7 linked regions of the Homo sapiens genome follow. The protein of the gene in region 2 purifies or fractionates together with the protein of the main gene of each other region. This does not show direct contact. Each region holds a gene or a part of one and is shown on either strand. Other genes may lie near its edges. The genes, in order: TNFRSF10A, PCDHB3, ADGRF1, TMTC2, DNAJC11, ESYT2 and CLCN3.

Region 1 (4,151 bases), on a different chromosome or scaffold from region 2:
GAGTCTCGCTCTGTCACCCAGGCTGGAGTGCAGTGGCACGATCTCGGCTCACTGCAAGCTCAGCCTCCCAGGTTCACGCCATTCTGCTGCCTCGGCCTCCCGAGTAGCTGGGACTACAGGCACCCACCACCACGCCCGGCTAATTTTTTGTATTTTTAGTAGAGACGGGGTTTCACCGTGTTAACCAGGATGGTCTTGATCTCCTGACCCTGTGATCCACCCACCTCGGCCTCCCAAAGTGCTGGGATTACAGGCGTGAGCCACCATGCCCGGCCACACGTAAGTGTTTTGATTAGTAAATCCAGGTAGAAGTTGTATGTGTGAACTGTAAATAATGTTGACAACTCTTAAGAATTGTCTGTTTTAATTAAACCAAGAAACTTAAACTAGCTTTCTATTTACTAAAGATTATCTCAGATCACGTGACCTTGAAAAACATTTAGATGGGCTCCAGTTTTTCTAAGAAAATGCTCCATTTATGGAAGCAATTCTTTTCTTTCTTTTAACCAAATCTTTGCATAGGTACCAAATAACACATTTGTTTAGGATGAGAGCTGCCCACTGCCCCCGCCAAAAAAAAGTACTTTTATATACAAAAGTCCAAATTTCCAAAGGTATATGTACTTTAATTGTGACTTGAACTCAAGGTAAATAAATTAAATAATTAATAAATTAACCTTAGCTTACTGGACGGCCACCATCTTATATGCTGTTCCCTTGACTGAAATGTTGTGGGGTAAATGACTATATATGAAATGGGACTTATTGGAGGAATTAATGCATCTGATAATGGAGGTTGAGAAGTTCCACAACAGGCCATCTGCACAGCAGAGACCCTGAAATGCTGGAAGCAGGACTTAATCCAGCCCAAAAACCTAAGACCCAGGGAAGCCGATGGTGTAATTCTTAGTTCAAGGCCAAAATCCTTAGATCCTTCGGGAGGCCACTGGTGTATGCCCTGGAGTCCAAGGGCTAGAAATCCTAGACTCTGATGTCCACAGGCAGAAGAGTGTCCCAGCTCCAGGAGATCAGATGGATTTGCTTTTCCTTTTTTTTTTGTTTTCTTCTATCTTGCTCCCCAGTCTGTCGGACGGTGCCCCCCCAAATTAAGGGTAGGTCTTTTCCACTCAGTCCACCCGATCGCATGCCAATCCCCTCTGGAAACACCCTCGAAGACATGCCCAGAAATAATGTCCCAGAAATAATGCCTTACCAGTGTTCTAGGTGTTCCTTAATCCATTCAAATTAACACCTCCAATTGACCACCATGATAAGGAAACACACGGAGGCCAGCTCAGGGGAGAACCAGATTTTCCTTTGGCATGTGAGCCTCAGTCGGGCAATAATTCTTTCAAGTTTATTTTATTTTATCTTGAGACAGAGTCTTGCTCTGTGTCCCAGGCTGGAGTGCAGTGGTGCAATCTCAGCTCACTGCCTCGTGGGTTCAAGTGATTCTCCTGCCTCAGCCTCCCGAGTAGCCGAGAATATATGCACACACCATCACATCCAGTTAATTTTTGTATTTTTTTGTAAAGACGGCATTTCACGATGTTGGTCAGGCTGGTCTTGAACTTCTGACCTCAAGTGATCCACCCGCCTCAGCCTCCCAAAGTGCTGGGATTACAGGCATGAGCCACTACACCTGGCTAAGAATTTACTTTGTATACATGTTAAAAAAAAAAAAAACCTAATATGTATTAACTCCTAACACCTAAGAGGAAACCTCTGGTAAAAAGAGTCTTTCACTCCAAGGACACGGCAGAGCCTGTGCCATCTTCTAAGTAGATGAACTTTCCAGAGTCCACCAAGAGGTCCTGAATCTTCTCTCTTGCATGTCTCTCTTCCATCCTCTCCAAGGCATCCAGCAGGGTGTGGATCGAGGCGTTCCGTCCAGTTTTGTTGACCCATTTCATCAGCATTGCATACAAGGCATCCCCTGGGCCTGCTGTACCAGCTCTGACCACATCGATCTCATTTTTCGTGAGGTCCAGCTGCCTCATGAGCTGGTCCCAGGAGTCAAAGGGCACGATGTTTGCAAACTTGTCAAAGAACAGCATCAGAGCTGGGTGGAGAAAGCCACAGAGACAGCCAGATGAGTTGGGACTCAGTTCAGAAGGGGCAGAGGATCCCACATCAGGCCCAGAACCCAAGGAGAGAACCTGGAGAGCCCCCTGCATGGGCAAACCTGTTGCTCCATTGCCCACCCACCTCCCATCCACAGAGAGCCCACCCACACTGCCTGGCCTCTGTGGCCCCCAAGGCGCTGACGGGCGTCAAGGTCACCAGAGAATCTGCCCTCAGAGAGGGCTGAGAACCCACCTGGGGAGGATGGATTGACCCTACGGAGGCAGAAAGCAAAGTGGGTGAGAGCCCGAGGGAGGGAGGGAGAGTGGCTGCAGCGGGAGCTCAGAGGATGCGGGCTGCCTGGGCTGCGCTTGTCATGGGAGCATGTCCCAGGGTGGCCACTTCTGCATCTGTGGAAAGTGCAGGGTCTGGGGCAGGGGACCTCTGCCCTCCCTGAGGCTGGGGCAGAGCTAGGTGGGGGCAAGCAGGCCCTGACCAAGAAGCAAACCTGAAGACAGAGCAAACCTGCCCAGATCTCAGGACTACCAGGGATTGAATGAAATGAGATGTGTGTGCAAAGCACTGCACACCACCATCCACAGGGATAGAAGGGGCCAGGAGTACCAAGCTATGTTTTCTAACAGCCTCATTTAAAGAACATAAAAAGAAAAAAGTGACATTCATTTTAATGTGTGGTACTGAATATGTGTAAAATATAATTTAATATGCAATGAGTATACAAAAACTGAAACTGACCCAATTGTCCCATAGAAAGGTTTTTTTGATAAACAGAAATTGACCCTTCTGGTCCTTAACGACTGGAAACTTAACATTTGTTTTATCTGAGTTACTTCCTCAGGAAAGACCTGCAAGCATCTCAAAAAAAGTAGCAAAGAACTGAAACTCACCAGATCACTACATCCAGACCATGATGGGATGTGGGACCCCTCATTCATCTTGATTGTTTCCTTGCCCCATTCTAGCTCCTACTTTCTTACACATTGTTACATTTCTTGCCTCCTATATAAACCCTTAGTTTTAGTTGGTCAGGGAGATACAGTTGAGACTGAGCTCCCATCTCTTCCACTGCAGCACCCTATTAAAGCCTTCTTGGCAATACTCATCATCTCAGTGACTGGCTTTCTGTGCAGCGAGCAGCGGGACCTAGACCAAACCCCTGAGGTTTTGGTAACAGGTTTTGGTTCCCTGGCTGGGAAAGTGTTGCTCATGGCTCTGCTGCCATGGGCCAGGAGACTCAGAAGCCCTCCCAAGCAGTTGCCCCGCTAACTTTGGCTGGAGGTGAGTTTCAGTCTCTCTCAGGTCCCACTGCAGCCGGCCCCAACCACATTCCTGATTACTTCCGAAGAACTGCCTTTGAAATTTGACATTTGCATCCAGACAGGTGATTGTCCTTTGTGGGCCCAGACAGCAGGATCTGCTCTTCTCAGTTTGAGAAATTTTTAAAGGAATTTCCATTTGCAGGTTGAACAGGCCCAAGTGACTGTGAGAGGGAAGCACTCTGCCTTTCAGTCTGGACACTCTTGGAGGCTTGTTTGTAATTGTGTGTTGTTTCAGGGCAAGTGAGTGTCTTTTGTGGGTACCAGGCAGCACGACTGGCTCCTCTCAATTTGAGAAATTTGAAAGCAATTTTTGTTGGCAGGTTGATCAAACCTAACCAATGGAGAGAGGAAGCACCCTGCCTGTTTCAGTCTGGACACTCTTGGAGCTTGTTTGTTGCTGCAGCAGTTGTATTATGTTTTGGTGATTATTTCTATGTGTTTGCTAGAGTCATGGGAAATTGGAATTCAGTAAACTTGGTATTCTTTTGTAATACTGTTTGGCTCCAATATTGCTTGGAAACTGAAGTTTGCTGCTGAATGAGAAAGTAGGATGGAGTTCCTGTATCCAGGCTTTTATGTTGCTGTTCTAAGCAGCATTGGGCCTGATTAGTTGGTTCTAGGTGGTGTTCTCTGCGATGCTGTTTGGAGTCTGCAGAGGTTTGGCCTTTAAAAATCAAACTGCCATGGAAACTGCTTTACCTAAAATTTGGGTTCACAACCTTCACTGAATTATCTATTGGAGCTAAC
Region 2 (4,270 bases):
ATTCTTAATGTTACTCAGTCTATCTTTATATTTTTATATCATTTTTACATACATTTGAATGAGCTATCCTATTAAAATTTTAATATTAACTTTGAAGGTCTTGTTTTGAGATTAGCAATGGTGTAGAGCGCTGTGTTGGTATCAAAAGTCTCTGATCAACCAACTCATTACCTGTAGGATTTTGGATGAGTCACAAAGTTTCTTTTCTTCTACCCAAATGATAGCAGGTATTTGAATAGCTTGCAGTTATACTCAATATAAAGACATAAAAGTGAAATTGCTGTTATTTTTAGTATCACTAGTATTAAGAGCAAACATTCTTGATAATTGTGTAGAAGTACAAAAGCGGCTACATTGAACACATATTTGCACTGTTTTATTTCTGTACCAACAACCTTGCAATGGCTTCCTTTTGTTCTTAGAATAATAAAATCCAAGCGCCCATTATTTGGCCTTGGTTTACCTTTTCAGCCTTCCTTTCCACTTACTCTTGAGACATTAAGTTTTGTATTCACTGTACTTCATTCATTATCTATTAATAGCTATGCTTTGCTCTCTCAGGGCCTTCACACATTCTACAGTCTTAGCCTGGCACACTTCTCCTATTTCATGTTTCAGATTAAATGGTGCACCTTGGGGGAAACTTTCTTAATCACTCTCCATTAAGTTAGGTCCCCGTATTGCATACTTTCAGTGCACTCAGTACCTTTTCTATGTAGCACTTTTCACACTGTTTAAACATCTGTTTAAAGACTGTACACCCACTAGATGGAAAATTGTTGTAAGATATACAGACATTGTCTTGTTACCACCACTTGCCTAACTTCTACAAACTCAACAATTATCTGTGGAAATAAACTAATACAGATGAAATGAATAATTGTAAATTTGCTCTGAAATAAGAAGAGAAAGCACTTTAAGTGTTCCTTGAGCATGATAATCTGGAAGAAATTAGGTATTTGTAGTCCTCTGGATCCACCTCTGACATGATATATTTTCTTTTTTACCACCTTGCAGGAGGTGTCTTTTCCTTGTGTTTTTCTGGTATATGCAATTCGGGCTCATTTCACAAAGTTTAGGAAAAAAAGAAAAACATAAATAGGATAGTGAAGCATGCTATCATCTAGAGCAAAAATCTTTTGAAGTTTGTGTGTAATTATTACAAAAGGGGAGGGGTAAACTAGTATGTGTACACTTCCGTTAAATCGTGTAAATGAGGACTCTACCAGGAAGAATCGCTGCTCGTAGATAAAAGTGCATTTTATTTCCCTAGATTGCATTTATTTAATTCATATAACATGAGAAACTCCTCCAGTAGCGTCAACTAGGGTTGATAAGAATAATCGATAAAGCAAAATAAAAACACCTTCTCCAAGATTTTGTAACTGCAAGCGAACGCATGGTGGCGCTGTTGACTAAGAAGGCGAATTAAACCACAGGCATTGTGCATGCTCGGTGACGCACGGATCCAGTGTGGTAAACCAGCGGTTGAGAGCCCAGGCAGATTTTTGAGCCAGCAAGTCTGAGCCTCTGGAAAGGCTTATTCACTAGGCCGTCTACAAAGGTTGTGGGGCAAAAGACTGTTTCCCAGCTCTGTCTGAGGTTCAGCTTGGCGACATTCCCTGGAAGAGCGTGACGGAAAGTGCAATGGAGGCGGGAGGAGAGCGATTTCTTAGACAAAGGCAAGTCTTGCTTCTCTTTGTTTTTCTGGGAGGGTCTCTGGCTGGGTCCGAGTCAAGACGCTATTCTGTGGCTGAGGAAAAAGAGAAGGGCTTTTTAATAGCCAACCTAGCAAAGGATCTGGGACTAAGGGTAGAGGAACTGGCCGCGAGGGGGGCCCAAGTTGTGTCCAAAGGGAACAAACAGCATTTTCAGCTCAGTCATCAGACAGGTGATTTGCTCCTGAATGAGAAATTGGACCGGGAGGAGCTATGCGGCCCCACAGAACCATGCATACTACATTTTCAGATATTACTGCAAAACCCTTTGCAATTCGTTACAAACGAGCTCCGTATCATAGATGTAAATGACCATTCTCCGGTATTCTTTGAAAATGAAATGCATCTGAAAATCCTAGAAAGCACTCTGCCAGGAACAGTAATTCCTTTGGGAAATGCTGAGGACTTGGATGTGGGAAGAAACAGCCTCCAAAACTACACTATCACTCCGAATTCCCACTTCCACGTACTCACTCGCAGTCGTAGGGACGGAAGGAAGTACCCGGAACTAGTACTGGATAAAGCGCTCGATCCGGAGGAGCAGCCGGAACTCAGCTTAACGCTCACCGCGCTGGACGGCGGCTCTCCCCCTCGGTCTGGGACAGCCCAGATAAACATCCAGGTCTTAGATATAAACGACAATGCACCAGAATTTGCACAGCCGCTCTATGAGGTTGCAGTTCTAGAGAATACCCCCGTTAACTCTGTCATTGTCACTGTCTCGGCTTCTGACTTAGATACAGGAAGTTTTGGGACAATATCATATGCATTTTTTCATGCTTCTGAAGAAATTCGCAAAACTTTTCAGCTAAATCCAATTACTGGTGATATGCAACTGGTCAAATATTTGAATTTTGAAGCGATTAATAGTTATGAAGTCGACATCGAGGCCAAGGATGGCGGAGGCCTATCCGGAAAGTCTACAGTCATAGTCCAGGTGGTTGATGTCAACGACAACCCACCGGAACTGACCTTGTCTTCAGTAAACAGCCCTATTCCTGAGAACTCGGGAGAGACTGTACTGGCTGTTTTCAGTGTTTCTGATCTAGACTCTGGAGACAACGGAAGAGTGATGTGTTCCATTGAGAACAATCTCCCCTTCTTCCTGAAACCATCTGTAGAGAATTTTTACACCCTAGTGTCAGAAGGCGCGCTGGACAGAGAGACCAGATCCGAGTACAACATTACCATCACTATCACTGACCTGGGGACACCCAGGCTGAAAACCAAGTACAACATAACCGTGCTGGTCTCCGACGTCAATGACAACGCCCCCGCCTTCACCCAAATCTCCTACACCCTGTTCGTCCGCGAGAACAACAGCCCCGCCCTGCACATCGGCAGTGTCAGCGCCACAGACAGAGACTCAGGCACCAACGCCCAGGTAACCTACTCGCTGCTGCCGCCCCAGGACCCGCACCTGCCCCTCTCTTCCCTGGTCTCCATCAACGCGGACAACGGCCACCTGTTTGCCCTCAGGTCGCTGGACTACGAGGCCCTGCAGGCGTTCGAGTTCCGCGTGGGCGCCACAGACCGTGGCTCCCCGGCTTTGAGCAGCGAGGCGCTGGTGCGCGTGCTGGTGCTGGACGCCAACGACAACTCGCCCTTCGTGCTGTACCCGCTGCAGAACGGCTCCGCGCCCTGCACCGAGCTGGTGCCCCGGGCGGCTGAGCCGGGCTACCTGGTGACCAAGGTGGTGGCGGTGGACGGCGACTCGGGCCAGAACGCCTGGCTGTCGTACCAGCTGCTCAAGGCCACGGAGCCCGGGCTGTTCGGCGTGTGGGCGCACAATGGCGAAGTGCGCACCGCCAGGCTGCTGAGCGAGCGCGACGCGGCCAAGCACAGGCTGGTGGTGCTGGTCAAGGACAATGGCGAGCCTCCGCGCTCGGCCACCGCCACGCTGCATGTGCTCCTGGTGGACGGCTTCTCCCAGCCCTACCTGCCTCTCCCGGAGGCGGCACCGGCCCAGGCCCAGGCCGACTTGCTCACCGTCTACCTGGTGGTGGCATTGGCCTCGGTGTCTTCGCTCTTCCTCTTTTCGGTGCTCCTGTTCGTGGCGGTGCGGCTGTGCAGGAGGAGCAGGGCGGCCTCGGTGGGTCGCTGCTCGGTGCCCGAGGGCCCCTTTCCAGGGCAGATGGTGGACGTGAGCGGCACCGGGACCCTGTCCCAGAGCTACCAGTACGAGGTGTGTCTGACTGGAGGCTCCGGGACAAATGAGTTCAAGTTCCTGAAGCCAATTATCCCCAACTTCGTTGCTCAGGGTGCAGAGAGGGTTAGCGAGGCAAATCCCAGTTTCAGGAAGAGCTTTGAATTCAGTTAAGTGTTAATAAGGATCTACTGAGCCTCGTCTTAGTTAATCTGTGGAAAGTCCTTTTTTACTGCTTTGTCCATTGGAGAGGTCTTTTTTGGTCTGGTTCAAGGCAAGTAGCAAGAATAGAGCAAAATATCAAATCCAGGGATGGCTTAGGTTTCATTAACAGTACTGGAAAGTAGTTGTGTGGCTCTGAATGTTTTGTATTTCAATCGAGAATCCTTAGTCGATAGAACATTTT
Region 3 (3,500 bases), on a different chromosome or scaffold from region 2:
CATTACACTGGGCTGGAAACAAAAGAAAACAACAAAGAAAAATGATCCTAGAATATCCTGGCACTCTATATAAACCATGTAGTCATGTTCAAATGTTTTAGAACTCATTTTTGGAGATGAAATCCAGGCAAAATTCAGAAGTAAGAGAAGTTTGTCTTTGATGTCCTGCTTCATCCCTCTCAACATTCCTTACTCATTCCTGATGCCTTACCCTCCCTGAGGCTGACTCCTCCTTCCAGGTGTCCGATCTGTGCCAACAATATCACTTTTAATGGGCTATCAACTAGTAAGTATTAGGTGATAATAAGGAAAGATGTGATTACTCTCAGGAAATATTTTTACTCTTTAAAGGAACATTAGAAAGCCAGACAATTTTCCAGACACTATAGAATAAAGCAGTAATGTTATGGTTAAAAGATGGGCAGTTGCTATTTGTGGGTAGCACTTCCTACCTGTACCTCTTTAAGCATAGCTCACATTGCAACCAGTTGCTACTTTTGCTGCTAGCCTTTAATAATGCATTCTTATCATGATTGGAACTAGGAGATGGAAACATTAACTGGAAGATCCACAAGGGCTATGATTTTTTTTTTTTCAGATGGGGTTGCACTCTTGTTGCCCAGGCTGGAGTGCAGTGGTGCAATCTTTGCTCACTGCAACCTCTACCTCCCAGGCTCAAGTGATTCACCTGCCTCAGCCTCCCTAGTACCTGGGAGTACAGGTGCACACCACGATGCCTGGCTATTTATTTATTTATTTATTTATTTATTTTTGTAACAGAGTCTCGCTCTGTCACCCAGGCTGGAGTTAAGTGGAGTGATCTCGGCTCACTGCAACCTCCACCTCCTGGGTTCAAGTGATTCCCCTGCCTTGGCCTCTCGAGTAGCTGGGATTACAGGTGTGTGCCACCACGCCTGGCTAATTTTTTTTTTTTTTTGTATTTTTAGTAGAGGCGGGATTTCACCATGTTGGCCAGGCTGGTCTCAAACTTCTGATCTCAGGCAATCTGCCCTCTTTGGCCTCCCAAAGTTTTGGGATTACAGGCTTTAGCCACTGCACTGGGCCTGGCTAATTTTTGTATTTTTAGTAGAGTCGGGGTTTCACCACGTTGGCCAAGCTGATCTTGAACTCTTGACCTAAAGTCATCTGCCCACTCTGGCCTCCCAAAGTGCTAGGATTATAGACGTGAGCCACTGCACCCAGCCAGAGCTAAGATTTTTGTTTGTTTTCACCATTGCTGCATTTTAAGTGTCTAGACACTTTGGATTCTCAGTAAATATTTATAGAATAAATGTTGTTGAAAGAGAGTGGTACAAATTTTGGTAGGAAAGGCGTAAGATTGAATGTAAAAGAAAAAGATAAATATCTGAAGAAAAACAGTTTGTGTGTGTGTGTGCGTGTCTGTCTGTCTGTCTTTATATGTGTTAAAGACATAATTTCTTGGATTGTGACTTAGGAATATTGTCAGCCTCAGGGCTCTTTCAACATGTGTGCCAGTCAACTATTGCTGAGCCCTTTCCATCACAGCCTGCAGTGAAGTCAGTTCTCCACACTGTTTACACTAAGAGGTACAGATCAGATTTCCAATTAGCAAGAATTTGAAATAGTCAGTTGAAGCTAAGTTTCATCTTGGTGCTGGGGGAAACAGCTGCCTGTTTGTGCTGAAAGGCAGTTAGAGAACAATTCGTTATTCAAACGTCTCAAATCTACTTCCTGAGGACACAAATGAACTACTAATTAAAGGACTCTCTTAACCTAAGCAGAGGATGGGAATCCAGCATTACCTTTTCCGAACACTCTGAAAGAGCCGTCTTCTAATGGAAACAGCTTGTGAAGGGCTGTCTTAGCCTTCTCGGCAACATGTTCAATGGCTGACAGCAGTTCAGATGCACTGCTGGAGCCAACAACTTCATACCCAGCAACGATGCTTCCATTTCTGCAGTGATTATGGGGAAAGAGAAATGAGATTCACTACTTATTTATTCATTCACTCCCGGCCTATGCTGTGTGTACATGCCATGGGGTCCATAGGAATAAAGTAAACAGAGCTTACATTCTAGTGGATAAGGCAAGGCAAATAAAAAAACAAGTATCCACCAAAAATACATATATATATGATATATATATATGTATAAATACATCTGTATATATACAGATATAATTATGGGGCCCCACATTAAATAAAGCTGGTTATGGAAGGCTTTTTTGTGCTGTGGGTCTTTGAAGCTGAGGCCTGAGGCCAGCTATGCAAAGAAGAAAAGGCCAGCTATGCAAAGAACACTGGTGTGGAATGTCAGCACAAGTAAAGGTCCTAAGGCGGGAAAATGCCTGTGAGTTTGACAAGCTTAAATACTAGGATGATTGAAATTCAGCAGCAAGGGAGCAATAGCAGGAGATGATATTGGAGTGGTACCAGGAGTCAGATCTCATAGGACATTAGAGTTGCGATTTCATTCTTTATTAAAAAGTTTTCTTCTTTATTAAAAGGTAGTGGCATCATAAGATTTATCTTTTTAAGACCGTAAAGGCTGCTGTGTAGAAAACAGATGGAAGGGAAGCAAGCAAGGTACAGGGAACTCAGTTAGGAAAGAGCTGGTGGTGGCTTGAACTAGCTGGGTAGCTATGCATGTGGTCAAATTCAGGTTTTATTTGGAGCCAGAGCCATAGAACTTACTAATGGAGAAGATTTGGGATGTGAAAGAAAGAAATCAGTCAATAATAACTCCAAGGAATGGAAAAGCAAGTTTTTGTATATTCTTACCATGGAGTACTACTGGACTACAAAAAGGAAGGAACCACTGATAGAAAAATGAGGATGAATCTCAATGACATTATGCTGAGTGAAAGACGCCGAACATGCAAAAAAAAAAAAAAACTGGATTATTCTATTTATGTGAAGTTCTGGAATAGACTAAACTAACCTGTGATGATAAAAATCATACAAGTGGTTGCTTCTGGCGTGAGGGGATGGCATGGAAAGAGGCTGGAAAGCAACACAAGAGAACTTTTGGGGTTATGGGAATGTTCCATCTTGACAGGAAGGGACTTGCACAAGCGTTTTTCAAAGCTGATAGAGTCATACACAAAGTTTGAGCACATAACTGTGTGCAAGTTATACCTCAATAAAAGAAATTATAGCACAGGATGGCTCCAGGATTGGGTCTCTGCAAGTGGAAGGACAGCATTGCTGTAATGGAAATAGGGAAGACAGTGGGAAAAATAAGTTATAGGTTAGGAAGGGGAGAGTCAGAGGATTCCCAGTTTGGACACATGACATTTGACATCCCAGCTGGAAAACCAAGTGGAGACTGTCAAGTAGGCCGTTGGTTATTTGAGTCTGGAGTTCAGGGGAGTGCCCGAGCTCAAGTAATAAATTTAGAATCCATCAGCATACAGATGTGTTTGAAGACATGAAAGCACATGAGATCAATACATTAAGTCAATCCTGCAATAACTCATGAGATAAGCAGTGTATCATTCCCATTTTATAGATAAGAGAA
Region 4 (3,500 bases), on a different chromosome or scaffold from region 2:
GGCCCACAAGGTGTCCTTAGGAATAGAAATCATGCAGAGAGCAGAGCAGTAAGATTGAGGGAAACTCAGTCCCTGTTACAAAAGACCATAGTGACCCTGGGCTAACTACCTCCTATTTCTTCAGTATGAGAAATAAGTTGCTACCTTTTCTAAACTGATATTTTGAGTGTTAACTAGTAACAGTTGAACCCAGTCATGAGCAAAATCCTTTATTAAAAGAAGACCTATTACAGAACAGTAGATTGATTTTCCATTTTGATTTTGATTTTTACAAGTCTCCATGTATTGACTGTGTATTAAATAAATTTCCATATAAATTGGCTTTTAAAATATTAGAACCAGATGTTATTCTGGATCTATTAAATTAAAACACCCTGCTATGACATTCATCAAGAGTCTACCCAGAAGTAATTGCTTAAGACTTGATGGGTTATAATTAAAATTTAAAAGAAATATGAAAAAAAAAAACAACTGCCAAACTGCCAAAGAGTGTTGCCAGAAAGAGCTTATTTCAAGCAATAGAGAATGAAACCCAGGCTTCAACTAGACATTAACCTAGATATTGATGTAAATATCTCTAATATCAATCCAGAAACCCTCATACCATCAAGGCCAGGGCAGTGGAGAGCTCAAAGGCAAACCATTCTGGGATAAGGCTTTGTCAAGGCAGTGAGAAAAACTGTGAGGCACGCTTTGTTTAGAGTAATACTCCATCCTTTCTGTGGCAGATCCCAAAGAATGAAGAATCATCTTTTCCAAACCTGGATTTCTACATGCTATTAGTTCAATGCCATGACCAACTATGTAAAGGCTTTTGATAAAAAATTCACCCATTAAAAAATCTGTTCAAAGCTGCTGGAATTTATCTTTATAGCAATAAATCTAGCAGCCTACAGCAGCCACGAGATATACTACATCCAAAGACCCTCCACCAAAAAGGGTTTCAACACAAAGAACACAATTAACACATCTCATAATTTTACCGTGAGAAAAAAACCTTTGAGGCCGGGCATGGTGGCTCATGCCTGTAATCCCAGCACTTTGGAAGTCTGACGCAAGTGGATCACCTGTGGTCAGGAGTTTGAGACCAGCCTGACCAACATGGTGAAACCCCATCTCTACTAAAAATACAAAAATTAGGCAGGCATGGTGGCAGGCACCTATAATCCCAGCTATTCAAGAGCCTGAGGCAGGAGAATTGCTTGAACCCTCGAGGTGGAGGTTGCAGTGAGCCGAGATCGCGCCACTGCACTCCTGCCTTGGCAATAGAGTGAGACTCCGTCTCAAAAAAAAAAAGAAAAAAAACTTTGAAACACAGCCCTAAATTTACATGGAAAAAAAGACAAACATAGTTAATAAAACAAAAATGAAGGAGCAAAAGAGTATCTCATCCATGTGAAAAACATACTATACTAAGGGAGACATTAGTATGATAAAATTCTCCAATGTGTGTTATCTGCTTAAGTAGGATTTTATTTAACCAATGAATATTATGATAAAAAATATGGAAGACTAAAATGTACTGGAATTTAATATACAAGTCATGTCACACATGCAGGTCAGTGATAAGGGATGCATTACACCACCTCAACATCCTATTAAGAAAGATACAGACCAACAGGGCCTTAATAGAATCTGAGTAATCCTCCAGCAAAATAAGAAAAAGGGAGTCATTCAAACCTAAGCATAATAGATTTTGATTCATTTGCATTTCCTTCTATGAGTCCAAAATAGAAATAGTAAAACCTCTTCTGCTGTTTCACAGCTAATGAAACACCTTGACTCAAAACAAAATTTCATGCTGATATAATTTTTGAGGTTGCTTCCGTGAAATGGTGTTGAAAATTCAGAAAGGCACTAAGGAATCAGGATATTTTCCACTCTAGGAAAGGTGGAGGAACTCAGAGCAGCAGATATGGGAAAAAAACAATTGTTGGCAGAATTCCCTAGAGAACACAGGACTGAGAAACTGTCTTTTTGAAGCAAAAAGATAGTCTCTGGCCGGGCGCGGTGGCTCACGCCTGTAATCACAGCACTTTGGGAGGCCGAGGACGATGGATCACGAGGTCAGGAGATCGAGACCATCCTGGCTAACACAGTAAAACCCTGTCTCTACTAAAAACACACACACACAAAATTAGCCGGGCGTGGTGGCGGGCGCTTGTAGTTCCAGCTACTCGGGAGGCTGAGGCAGGAGAATGGTGTGAACCCGGGAGGCGGAGCTTGCACTGAGCTGAGATCCCACCACTGCACTCCAGCCTGGGCGACAGAGCGAGACTCCATCTCCAAAAAAAAAAAAAAAAAGATAGTTTCTGAAGTCTTCAAGGAAGTCTTAGCCTGTGTCCAGGTTTGTTCATTTGTGGCTCTTTGTTTTTGTTGCCTTATGATTTTTCCTTTAGAAAATGTTGACAAAGGCCAACACTATTGTAAAACTGATGAATGATGTGACACTGCCACCCAAACTGTCCTTGTGTGTCTTTCTCTCACAGCTTTTTTTTTTTTGTCTCGTGACCTTTTCAGTCATAAGCACCCATGTAAGTAATGACCAGTAGTCCTTCAGAGCAGGAATGACGCTTAGATTCTTCCAACATCAAATGGCGCTGTTCTGACATGCTTTCAATTGTTCTACTTGAAAGTAAGCAAAGGCCAAACTTAAATTAAAAAAAATAAATAAATAACAGTAGGTTGAAATGTTCTTTGCAAGAAAGATAAGAAAAAAGACTGGCCTTTGTTAACCTGCCCTGCTTCAGTGCTGCCCAGTGCAATGCAGCAGTTAAGAAAATCCATTGTGTAGCCAACTGGATACACTAAAGTTGTGAGACAGCAGACACAGTTATTTCACCTCTCTGTACCTTAGTTTCCTCAACTGTAAACTAGAGAGCACTATACTTGCCTTATAGGATCATTGTGAAGAGTAAATGATTACATGCAATATAATGTGAGTATGTAACATAGGTAACATATGTTAGCAATTTTTTGTTGTTGTTTTGGAGACAGAGTCTCACTCTGTCGCCCAGGCTGGAGTGCAGTGGCATGATCCCTCCACCTTCTGGGTTCAAGCGATTCTCCTGCCTCAGCCTCCCCAGTAGCTGGGATTACAGGTGCCCACCACCACACCTGGCTAATTTTTGTATTTTTAGTAGAGATGGGGTTTCACCATGTTGGCCAGACTGGTCTCGAACTCCTGACCTCAGGTGATCTGCCTGCCTCGGCCTCCCAAAGTGCTGGGATTACAGGCGTGAGTCACAGCACCTGGTTACATGTTAGCTATTATTATCATCATCAACACCAAACAACTGATGCTAGCCATCAATGCAAACACAATGTTGTTTTCTTTTTTTTGAGATGGAGTCTCGCTCTGTCACTCAGGCTGGAGTGCAGAGGTGCAATTTCAGCTCACTGCAACCTCTGCCTCCCGGGTTCAAGTGATTCTCCTGCCTCAACCTCCTGAGTAGCTGGGACTACAGGAGCACGCCACCACGCCCAGCTAATTTTTGTAT
Region 5 (3,500 bases), on a different chromosome or scaffold from region 2:
GTAGAGATTAGGAAGAGAAAGCTGGACAAATATATGAGCTGGAGATTGAGGGGGTGGTCCAAGCTGGCACTTGCAACGTGAGTCCTCAGGGCATGAGAGCCATGAGGCTGGACATGACTGCTTGGGAGTGAGTCGAGAGAGAAGGGCTGTGCCCTGCAGTGGTGCCTCCATTTAGGGGTTTGGGAGACAGCAGCCATCTGGTACGGAAAGCCAGAGCAGGGCGTGGTATCCTGGAAACTCAGGGCAGAGAGGCTGTAAGGGCAGGAGGGAACGGCCACCGCGACAGCAGGTGCAGAGACCAAATGAGATGAAGAAGAATCACCCTCTGATCTGCCACAGGAGGGAGGGTGCCCCACTGATGAGGTGAGAAAGGCTGATTCTGGAGAGGGCTGGTTTTGCTGGAGAGGCCTGACTGGAGCACGTTTAGAAAGAAAGAAGACGGATGCAAGCGAAAACAGACATTTTTTTTTTTTTTTTTGAGTGGAGTCTCGCTCTGATGCCCAGGCTGGAGTGCAGTGGCGCCATCTCGACTCACTGCAAGCTCTGCCTCCCGGGTTCACACCATTCTCCTGCCTCAGCCTCCCAAGTAGCAGAGACTACAGGCGCCCGCCACCACGCCCGGTTAATTTTTTGTATTTTTAGTAGAGACGGGGTTTCACCGTGTTAGCCAGGATGGTCTCAATCTCCTGACCTCGTGATCTGCCCGCCTTGGCCTCCCAAAGTGCTGGGATTACAGGTGTGAGCCACAGTGCCCGGCCAAAACCAGACAACTCTTTTGAGGAACTAAGGAGAGGACAGTGACTAGACTCAGGTGGAGCAAGGGTATGTGTGCCAATGGAAACCCCTGGTGAGAGGGATGAACCGATATGGCAGCTGCTACTGGAGATGCTGTGCCCGGGGGATAGCTGCCAGGCCAGTGACTCCAGGAGGACTGGGCTGCTAGGATGCATCCTGTGACATCAGGCGAGGCTGCTGGAGCTCAGACGTACACCTCACTCACTCGGTGTTGGAACTATGCACTGCTTGACATTTGCTTACTCAGCAAAGACACAAGCAACTGTATTTTTTTTTTGAGATGGAGTCTCACTCTGTCACCCGGGCTGGAGTGCAATGGAGCGATCCTGGCTCACTGCAAGCTCCGCCTCCTGGGTTCAAGCGATTCTCCTGCCTCAGCCTCCCGAGTACCTGGGACTACAGGCACCCGCCACCACCCCTGGCTAATTTTTTGTATTTTTAGTAGAGATGGGGTTTCACCATGTTAGCCAGGATGGTCTCGATCTCCTGACCTCGTGATCCACGGCACCTGGCTGAATTTTTTTTTTTATATTTTTTGAGACGGAGTCTCACTGTCCTCCAGGCTGGAGTGCAGTGGCACGATCTCCATCTCAGCTCACTGCAACCTCCGCCTTCGGGTTCAAGCAATTCTCCTGCCTCGGCCTCCCAAATAGCTGGGATTATAGGCGTGTGCCACCACGTCTGGCTAATTTTTGTATTTTCAGTAGAGATGGGGTTTCACCACGTTGGCCAGGCTGGTCTCAAACTCCTGACCTCAGGCGATCCGGCCGCCTTGGCCTCCTAAAGTGCTGGGATTACAGGCATAAGCCACTGCACCTAGCCAAGCAACTGTGTCTTTAAGAACAAAATTACAATGCAAAGGCTATTTCAGCCTTAACTTGGGTAAAGCCTGGTTGAGTGAAGGTGACAGGCATTCCTTGACCCGAAAGGCCTAAGTTCAACTTACTTGACTTTGAGAGAAACACCCTGTGGAACTCCAACGCTGACAGCTGCACCCAAAACGCTGTGCCTGGAGATCTTCCTCTCAGCTCCGTACTCCACCACCGTCCCAAAGAAGCCTGCTCTGCAGGGAGAGAACGCGGTCTGTGCCTGTGCCCCTCATTCATCACTTCAGGGGCAGCTGTCATTTGAGAAGAGGCCAGGTACCTTCCCTTCCCTCCCTCCAGCCTCCTCGACCCCCAGGGAGCAGATTCATGACAGAAGAAAGTTGGGACACCCATGGTCTAGTTCTTCCACAACACTCTCTAAGCTCCTCAAGGGCTGGGACTGTAGTGTTAAATCCCCCACAGCCTCAAAATAGGAAGCTCTCCAAAAATGTCACACACACGTAGATATTCACACGAGCAAGGTGTCTTACACCAACTGGTTCCACTGTGAAGACCCGCATGCAGTACCAGTGTGCTTCCATTTTAGCCAGGCCAGGACTTACTTGAGGGATCCTTTCACACGAGTCTGATCGTCATCTTGGAATTTGTGCTGATAGCTGATCAGTGCAAAGGAGTGAGGGATTCCCAGCTGGGGAGACAGAGGGTGCAAGGATGCGTGGCTAGGGCGTGTGACTCTGTGGGGAGATGGGTATCTGCCCTCCCACTAGCTCTGGGCATCTGCTGCACACAGGCCTTTAAGGCAGGGGTCACGGTCTGGCAGCCGCAGTGAGTGCACCATGATTTATTAGCAGCCAGTAATTAAAAAGTGGGAGACTTCACTGAAAACCCAGTTTTCTAGCTTCTCACAAGAAATAAAAAACTCTGGTGACACTGAGCCTATGCTCCTAGGTGGCAGCGGCTGGTGAGAGCCAAGGAGCAGTGGCCCGTGTGGGGCTTCTCATGTACCAGCCCTGGTGTGGCCACAGGGGCGTCCGAGGGCATGATTCTGCTATGGGGCTTCATCTGCCCGCCCCCAATTCCGTGGGTGGCTCCCACCAGACATTAAGATGTTGTTCTGCTTTAAGATGATCCAACAAAGCTGCCCCAGGCGCCTGAAGGCAACTGCATTTCATACTCGAAGGTTCCACCAGGTCACTCGAGTGTGAGCACCGAGAGCCTGCCCCTCAGGGCCCTGTATGGGCTTAGACTTAGTGGTGATCAGGACGCAGGATTTAAGGGGAGCACTGAGTGCTTGGGAGGAGGGGTCCTCCCAGAGCTCTGTCTGCAGGAGATGATGGCTGCTCGGCTCACCTGCAGGGCCACAGTGAAGTGGCTGGTTTTAGTGTCTCGGACGATGCTAGTGTTCATGGCTGACTGGATACCCCATCGCCACTGCAGGTAGCCCACGGTGTTCTTGTCTAGGTTCCGAGCTAGGACAGTGGTCAGGCCGGGTCGGATTCCACGGGATGAAAACTGCAGAGCACAGTTTGTTGTCACAAAGCTGGAGAGACACAGAGACAGAATAGGTCCTGGATAGCACCTGCTCTCAGCTGTTCTGTTACTTCCTCTCTGCCTGGCTAAGACCTCACTTACTGTCACGTCTATGCATCCCTGGGCCAGCTCCCAGTAAAAAAAAAAGCAGGAGGTCAGGCCTCTATCCACACAGAGGGGGAGGGTCCTAGCCAGAATCTTCCTAGTAACCTCCCGACTCCCCTCAGCCGCCCTAACTTTAGCTACAACCAAATAGGCACCTGACTGTCTGCATTCCTATGCCAGCAGATGCAACCCCACTCAAGTTAGAATGGATGGGGGCCGAGGAGTGCAAGTCAGAATCACCAA
Region 6 (3,500 bases), on a different chromosome or scaffold from region 2:
TCCCACGCGCCCGCTGCTGTGCTGCTGAGTGTGGATGCTGGATAGGATGATGTAGACACCGCCTTTAGGATTTCCAAACATCCATTTATGTTTCATTTAGAAAGGACAAAGCAATTAAACCTCTAGAGACGGTGCTCGTAAAGGGTGTCACCACTGCGTATGTCACATGACAACGTTTTGGTCACCGAAGTACAACGGTCCCCTAAGATCATACTGTATTTTTACTGTACCTTTTATGTGTTTAAATACACAAATATGGCTTGGCATGGTGGCTCACGCCTGTAATCCCAGCACTTTGGGAGGCTGAGGTGGGCAGATCACCTGAGGTCTGGAGTTCGAGACCAGCCTGACCAAAATGGAGAAACCCTGTCTCTACTAAAAATACAAACTAGCCACGTGTGGTGGTGCATGCCTGTAATCCCAGCTACTAGGGAGGCTGATGCAGGAGAATCACTTGAACCCAGGAGGCAGAGGTTGCTGTGAGCCAAGATCGTGCCATTGCACTCCAGCCTGGGCAACAAGAGCGAAACTTTGTCTCAAAAAGAAAAAAAAATACACAAATATGTCACAATTGCCTACAGTATTCAGCACAGTAGCATACTGTACAAATGTGTAGCCTAGAGCAGGAAGAGTGTGTGTGTGTGTGTGTGTGTGTGTGTGTGTGTCTGTGTGTGTGTGTGTATTTTTTTTTTTTTTTGGAGACAGAGTTTTACTTTGTCCCCCAGGCTGGAGTGCAGTGGCACAATCTCATCTTACTGCAACTTCCGCTTCTTGGGTTCAAGCAATTCTCCTGCCTCAGCCACCCGAGTAGGTGGGATTACAGGCGTGCACTACCTCGTCCGACTAACTTGTATTTTTAGTAGACACGGGGTTTCACCATGTTGGCCAGGCCTCCTGAGTAGCTGGGACTATAGGTGGAAGCCACCAGGCCTGGCTAATTTTTAATTTTTTTATGGAGACGCTGGTCTCTAATTCCTGGCCTCCCAAAGCACTGGGATTATAGACTTGAGCCACCATGACTGGCCTAATCAGGAAGAATTTATTTTAACTTGTTTGTTATATTAATAAGTATAAAGTCAGGTGACTGTTGCATTAATTGCATTTGTTAACAATGATACTGTGGGCTTACGAACTATTTTCCTTTTATGCAATTTTCTCTGTCCTATTAGTGGTTTAAAATATGATATAAAAATTTGGTGCTTATAAATAGCTGTTGGAAACATAGGAAAATAAAATTAGCACCATTTAGAAAGATGATAAAAATGTAGAGTTCAGTACATCACTCTTGAGAAGTTCATATATTCTTGCCACTTAGATAATGATCGTGGGGGATACTGTTGTAGAGGAGTCTAGCAAAACAATCCCTCCTAGACTTTGTGGTCAGTCAGCAAGCGAAGAATGTGGGGGCCTGTGCAGCTGGGCACCTGACCGCGTTTGCTGCAAAGGAGCAGCCCCCTTCTGGAGGGGTAGGCACTGTGGGGTGGGGGCCTGGCTTTCTTGGCTGTGAGAGAGAAAATGGCAGAAGCATTATGGAAAGACAACCGTCACTCTGTTACAAGCAGAGACCAAGGACTTGGAACGTCCTCCAAACTCTGGGCTTGAGAAATGAAGGCCGAAGTCGCTGCTGAGAAAGCCACTAAGAAAGGAGTTTGGGAGATGCCACCAGGCAGCCGTCGGGGGAGGCAAAAGCGCCTCACGCATTCTGTTCCTTGTTGCTTCTCGGTTTGTAGATAAACATGAAATCAAAGCTTGATAAAGCATATCTGAATGTGCTGCTCATTCTCTTTTTCTCGGTCCTAATACCTCGTCTTATCTGGTTTGTGTTGTAAGAAACCTCATTGCCTTCTCTGAAGACGGCTCTGACCCCTATGTCCGCATGTATTTATTACCAGACAAGAGGCGGTCAGGAAGGAGGAAAACACACGTGTCAAAGAAAACATTAAATCCAGTGTTTGATCAAAGGTACGGTATTTTATCCAGCTGAGGATAGACTGCCCGGTTGAAGTGACGGATTAAGAAGGCCCTAAATGGTGCCTTTGAGTGGCCAAAGCACATAAATCAGCTGTTGAGAAGTTCAATCAGAAACCAACTTTTAGCAAACATACTTCTCAAAACAAATAAGCATTTTGACCTTCATGTAGAAGCTCTAAATACAGTAAATTCAAGTTACAACCCTGTGGACATGTAGACTAGTGATTAAATAAAGATCAGGTTACTGATGGCCCTGAAGAACTCATTTTTGGGGGTTATATCTGTTGACACTTAACTATGTTATCAATTAAAACTGAGAATTTAAGGATACATATATTTTTAATTTTATTTTTAAATAACAGTAAGCCCCAAACATCTTACCGTATGACATATTGGAAAAACAACTGTATTTCCAAAAATAAAAAACATAATGAAAAGAATGGTATTATTGTTCAGCATTTTTGCTCATCTCTTTAGTGGTCTGGCTCAAGAGGGGCTGGAGCCTGCTTCTGTGGTCAGGGTGATTTGGTGACCTCCTAGGAGGGTCTCAGAGACACCCCCAGGGGTCATTGGCCCCCACTTTTAAAGAGCTGCTAATCTGTACCATTTTGGTATCTTAGGTGATTGTCCCCTAGTGCTTCAAAACCCACCCTTGTTTTGGGAAATGATAATAATACAGTTGTATGGTGTCGCTATCTGCTAATTCAGTTTACGTTTCATCTTTAAACATCCTCCTCATTCATTGTACTTTCATACAAGTAGCTTTATGTAAAACACCCATCAGAAACTGGCAGGCGTGCATCAGCCCGATGAGGTTGTGCAGGGTGCTCCTACCCATCCGAGGCATTTAAGCGTCTGGAGACTCCACTTGCCCCCCAGCACGGTGGCCTGGGGCAGGCACCCGCAGCCCGGAGGAGAGACGCCCTGCAGGCACTTTAGTGCAGCGTCTGGCTGAGCATCGGGAGTGCTTTGGAGGCCTTCTCCCTCCTGCGAAGCTGCAAGCACATACTTTTTTTTATTGGAGATGGTGGGAATAGGGCCTGAAGACTAAACCAGACTGAGTGGAAAGCCTGAGTGAGTGGGCTGCTCTGGAATTGCTGTTTTGTCAACATTATCCCACATTTTAATCCCCTGGAAGAGTCAGACATGTTGAGAGACGCTCCTCACCCACCCGTGAGTGAGCCAGGGACCTTGGGACCCAGACATCTATGGGATGCCAGAGCCTTCTTTTATGTGTGGGAAATGAAAAAAATGTTGGTTTTTGAGTCTTCCTGAAATGCCAGATTAAAACATTAGGTAGAAGAACTCAGTTTTATAATAAAAAACAAACATGACATTTGGAATGATCTCATGAGCAGAAATGCCATTTTTAGTTATAAGAAAATACAGCAGAATGATGGATAAAGTAAGGCTCTCGTTTCCTATTTCAGCTTTGATTTCAGTGTTTCGTTACCAGAAGTGCAGAGGAGAACGCTCGACGTTGCCGTGAAGAACAGTGGCGGCTTCCTGTCCAAAGACAAAGGGCTCCT
Region 7 (4,016 bases), on a different chromosome or scaffold from region 2:
ATAAAAACAGACAAAAAAACCCAAATTCCTCAGGGGCAGCGGGTATAAATGCTAGAGGCTTTCAAGAGGACAACGGAATAAACACACATACAAATATAACACTCAGATTATAACAAGGAAGAAAGATAAAACAATAAACCAATAAAAAGTTGCTGTGGAAGACAGAAACTTTGAAAACTAAATAGTCTTCATGATTTTAAAAGACAGAAACTGTTCGATTATTTCTCACAAGAAATAGCAAGAAATATATTTATTTAACTTGGTTCCAGTCAAAGTTGCAGATCAAATCTCTCTGGATTTCAACAATGAAAGTGAGGCAGTGGGGTTCAATCTCCATATTAAACTTCACTGAAGATTTATCTTTAAGAACCAAAATGAATCACAGCTACAATGTTTATGTACAGATGTGAATGTGCATATTTAAAAAATTAAAATGTTTATTAGAGTAGTAAGATTATGAGTATTCCTTTTAAAAACACTGTTTCCCAGACTCTCTGTAATTTTACATTGCTTTTATAATTGAACCTACAAGCCACGTCCCTCCTTGTTTTTCTCTAGCATTTTGACTATTCTAAACTACACTATGGTGCAGCAGAGAGCAGGAACTCTGAAATCATACTCCCAGGCTTCAGTCTCAGTTCTGACAGTTACTGTAGGGCAAGTTAGTTAAATTTTCTGTGCCTCAGTTTCTACGAATGTAAAACGGGATTAGTGAAAGTACCTACTTCGTGGGGTTAGTGTGAAAATTGAGATAATTCACAAAAATTACTTGGAAAAGAGCCTGAAAACACAGAATGCATTCAACAAATATTAACACTTATTATAAAATATTATACATTTTAGATCACTGCTGACAAGTTTGACTACCAAACTAAGTTGGAAGTTCTACAAAACAGCGATAGTGGCCAAACCCCACAGGATACTGCTTTGATATAAGACCCACCACAGAGATCAAATCTGGCTTCCTGAGCCGTCTGAAAATTATGACCAACATGTCACAACAGGAAATGGAAAGCCTACCACTAACATGACCTGGAAAATAGCCAATTTACTAACACAAACCCACAACATCAACAAATCTGTTCCCCTGAACCACATCTATCCAAAAGTAGTTTAAATATTTACATTCTTAATGAGCTATGTATGACTGATAACACATACTGAAGTACAATTTCCAAGTAAAAATGTAGGTACTATACATTCATATTGACTTCTTAAAATAATGTGACTCATCATTCAAGTAAAGCAGCAAAGTTTTCGAGGTGCTGAGGGGAGTAAGGGGTGGGAAGGGTATGCAATCTGTGATGAATTCTGCCAACAGTGGCTGTCTGTATTAACCAGAGGCCATATACGCATATTCAAGTTGAGAAAATATCTGTAGGTCACACACATGGTTTTTAAAGCCATATTATAGAACAAGACACTGAATAGCAGCAGCACCTTTTAAGATGAAAGTCAACAATTTATACACAAGCACTTTAACTCCCATATGTACTCCTGAACTGAACAAATATTATTTTGTAGTGACTCACAAAGGGACGCAGTTATTTCCATACCGACCTCATAAAAAAAAATCTTCTAAATTAACTCTTTAAAGATGAAAGTAAAAGCATTTCTGGAAAGATTCAACAATTATACAAGCCACAATGATGCTGCAGTAACTGAACTGCATAGCTCCAAAAGTTTACGTTTGTAGAACTGAACTTTTGAATTATATATCTGTGTAAAAGGTATGGTCGCTGTTGATTCAATTCCATGAACAGGAATTTCTTTCTAAAGGAAACAGAAATCTCAGTTTCTAATATGCACAATGCATATGTAATTATCTTCTATATGCTCCGCAGTTTTAAAATGCCATACAAACAAAGCATACCACATGCAAAGTCAATTTCTGAGATTCTAAGGCAGTTTCTGGTCAAGTTTAAGATCAAACCACAAATATATATACACAAAAAATATTTTACATACATATATATCTAAAGATAGAAAAACTGAATATTATTTTTAAATTGGGGAAAATTTAGCGAAAGTAAAACCCACTCCTCTAAGTTTAAAGTTAATCTTCTCCTGGAACCCACTTCCATTTTATTCAGAGGTCCTTCGACGGTTCCTGAAGCAGATGTGTGAAATTTTAAAGAATGTCTGAGGGTATATACCTAATCAGGATGGGTTAGCATCCCAATTCACGATGTACCTTTCAACATTATGTAGGTACATTGTAAGAGAAACCAAGATGAGCGCTGTGGCCTCACAGTTGACCCAAAATCTGTGAACAGGAGAGCTGACAACTCTTCGCTCATACAATGCAACTCACCTCGCAGCTCAGAGACATAGCAAAATCGGTGGCTGTTTTTTGCGCTGCCTTTGGATTCTGCATCTGTTTCAAACCTAGAACCTAGCTACCCTCGGAGCTCCACCGAAGAAAGCCTGACACAGCGAAAACTATCGCGATTTAAAAGATACCTGACGTTTTCTACCGCAGAGGTTACGAAAATTTTGCCCGGTGGGACTTTTATTGTCCTCCTTCAAACACGGGAGCAACATGAAGTTAAATCCTCTCGCTCTGGAGATCCCTAGAGTCAACCTGCTTCTGCCCAAAATTAAAAATAAAAATCTCCAATCTCACTTCCCCCTTAAGACTAAAACTGAATCCATGCTCTAACTCGGGAGTAAAGTAGGATGGCTTTCAACCCACCACACCCTCCTTGCTCATTATTCCGGGTCACGGGCGAACTAGAACACTGGGAAAGGGGCTGCAGGTTCCGGACCGGACCGGCCCTGACCCACGGAAGGGGAAGAGAAGCGGCAGGAGTCAGGAGCCCGAAAGGTACGCCCCAGCGTCGACGCGTGACGTCACTACGTTGACGTGAACGGCCGTTCAGCGTCCGGCCGTCCCAACACCTCCTCCTCCGGCCACTCGCTGAGTAGCGTCGGCGCCTATTGGGCGGCGTGGGAACGGTGGGCGGGCCGGGACTGGGTCTCGAGGAGGAGGAGGGGTGCGAGGTGCCTGGCTCTGAGGGCCGCCGGGGCTGTGAAGCCTGTCATTAGCGATTAGCTCACGTCAGTCACTCACGCATCCCTGTTTGCCCTGCTGCTGACCTCGCGCGAGGCGGCCACCTTGTGGGAGATGTTTTCGTGAGGCAACAGACGCTGGCCGTTCCCAGCGTCACGCAGAGTTCGGATCCACTCTAGCGAGAGACCACAGCGTCCGGGAGCAGCTTGTGAAACTCTGGCGAGCGTCAGCCTTGAAAATAAAAAGTATTGGCAGCCGTCGACGAGCACAGGTTCCTAAAACTTAGATCGAAGAGAAGTACCAGCCTTCAAAAATAAACCAGCACCAAAAGCCCCCTGTGCTTATAGGTGACGTGCGGGCTGGGAGTGCAGTGGTGTCACCTCGCCTTGTATGTCATCGCCGGTTGTGTGCCTAACATACATACAAAAAGGATAACTCGAATTTAGCCATCACGCATTTTCAAAAATACTGCTTGGAAATTGAATGTTTGGAGAAAAGATATAATCTGGGGTTTCTACACGGTCTGAATTGGGTTCATTTCCGTTTAGCAAACATTTATTGAGCTCCCAGCGTGGGTCACAGAATTCAGTAAACCTGATCCCGTGTTCAAGGTGCTATATTCCGATGCAGGGCAGGGCGATGCAGTGAAAGAATGGTGGCCACAGCAGTAGCATGCTAATAGCCTGGTGGGCAGGTACAGGTTTTGCATTTCTTTGGCGAGATCACTTTTGAGTGTCTCCACTGGGTGGCAGAATTAAGACCCGTGAACGTTTAATATCTCCTGTATATTTAGTATATTATGAATATATACTGATTAATGAATATTAAGTGCGTGTTGTATATCTTGTGCCTCATGAATATTAAATATGACCTGGTCTTGCCAGCCTTTTCTATTTTTACATATACGTGCTCCACCGACTGTTTTGCAGGCTAGGAACACGTGAGTTTTGTTCTCCTATTTCTTCTAGGGCAGCATTGAATATTCTCAAAGACAGTTCTGGGC

The links.
Region 1: the proteins of PCDHB3 (region 2) and TNFRSF10A purify together in Homo sapiens (affinity purification with mass spectrometry; one large-scale study listed by BioGRID and IntAct). This does not show direct contact.
Region 3: the proteins of PCDHB3 (region 2) and ADGRF1 purify together in Homo sapiens (affinity purification with mass spectrometry; one large-scale study listed by BioGRID and IntAct). This does not show direct contact.
Region 4: the proteins of PCDHB3 (region 2) and TMTC2 purify together in Homo sapiens (affinity purification with mass spectrometry; one large-scale study listed by BioGRID and IntAct). This does not show direct contact.
Region 5: the proteins of PCDHB3 (region 2) and DNAJC11 purify together in Homo sapiens (affinity purification with mass spectrometry; one large-scale study listed by BioGRID and IntAct). This does not show direct contact.
Region 6: the proteins of PCDHB3 (region 2) and ESYT2 purify together in Homo sapiens (affinity purification with mass spectrometry; one large-scale study listed by BioGRID and IntAct). This does not show direct contact.
Region 7: the proteins of PCDHB3 (region 2) and CLCN3 purify together in Homo sapiens (affinity purification with mass spectrometry; one large-scale study listed by BioGRID and IntAct). This does not show direct contact.

Annotation. Positions count from the first base shown.
Region 1 is NC_000008.11:23,189,952-23,194,102, forward strand, and holds the end of TNFRSF10A (tumor necrosis factor receptor superfamily member 10A), read right to left. Parts: intron 2,063-4,151; coding exon 1,743-2,062; 3' UTR 501-1,742; downstream 1-500. UniProt on the Homo sapiens protein: Receptor for the cytotoxic ligand TNFSF10/TRAIL. The adapter molecule FADD recruits caspase-8 to the activated receptor.
Region 2 is NC_000005.10:141,099,003-141,103,272, forward strand, and holds the start of PCDHB3 (protocadherin beta-3 precursor), read left to right. Parts: upstream 1-1,470; 5' UTR 1,471-1,647; coding exon 1,648-4,038; 3' UTR 4,039-4,270. UniProt on the Homo sapiens protein: Potential calcium-dependent cell-adhesion protein. May be involved in the establishment and maintenance of specific neuronal connections in the brain.
Region 3 is NC_000006.12:47,014,833-47,018,332, forward strand, and holds part of ADGRF1 (adhesion G-protein coupled receptor F1 isoform 1 precursor), read right to left. Parts: intron 1,937-3,500; coding exon 1,785-1,936; intron 13-1,784; coding exon 1-12. UniProt on the Homo sapiens protein: Adhesion G-protein coupled receptor (aGPCR) for N-docosahexaenoylethanolamine (synaptamide), an omega-3 fatty acid lipid highly enriched in the brain.
Region 4 is NC_000012.12:82,850,906-82,854,405, reverse strand, and holds part of TMTC2 (protein O-mannosyl-transferase TMTC2 isoform 1 precursor), read right to left. Parts: intron 1-3,500. UniProt on the Homo sapiens protein: Transfers mannosyl residues to the hydroxyl group of serine or threonine residues.
Region 5 is NC_000001.11:6,642,817-6,646,316, forward strand, and holds part of DNAJC11 (dnaJ homolog subfamily C member 11), read right to left. Parts: intron 3,163-3,500; coding exon 2,973-3,162; intron 2,311-2,972; coding exon 2,225-2,310; intron 1,859-2,224; coding exon 1,742-1,858; intron 1-1,741.
Region 6 is NC_000007.14:158,735,510-158,739,009, reverse strand, and holds part of ESYT2 (extended synaptotagmin-2), read left to right. Parts: intron 1-1,830; coding exon 1,831-1,962; intron 1,963-3,401; coding exon 3,402-3,500. UniProt on the Homo sapiens protein: Tethers the endoplasmic reticulum to the cell membrane and promotes the formation of appositions between the endoplasmic reticulum and the cell membrane. Binds glycerophospholipids in a barrel-like domain and may play a role in cellular lipid transport.
Region 7 is NC_000004.12:169,619,362-169,623,377, reverse strand, and holds the start of CLCN3 (H(+)/Cl(-) exchange transporter 3), read right to left. Parts: upstream 2,801-4,016; 5' UTR 2,315-2,800; intron 1-2,314.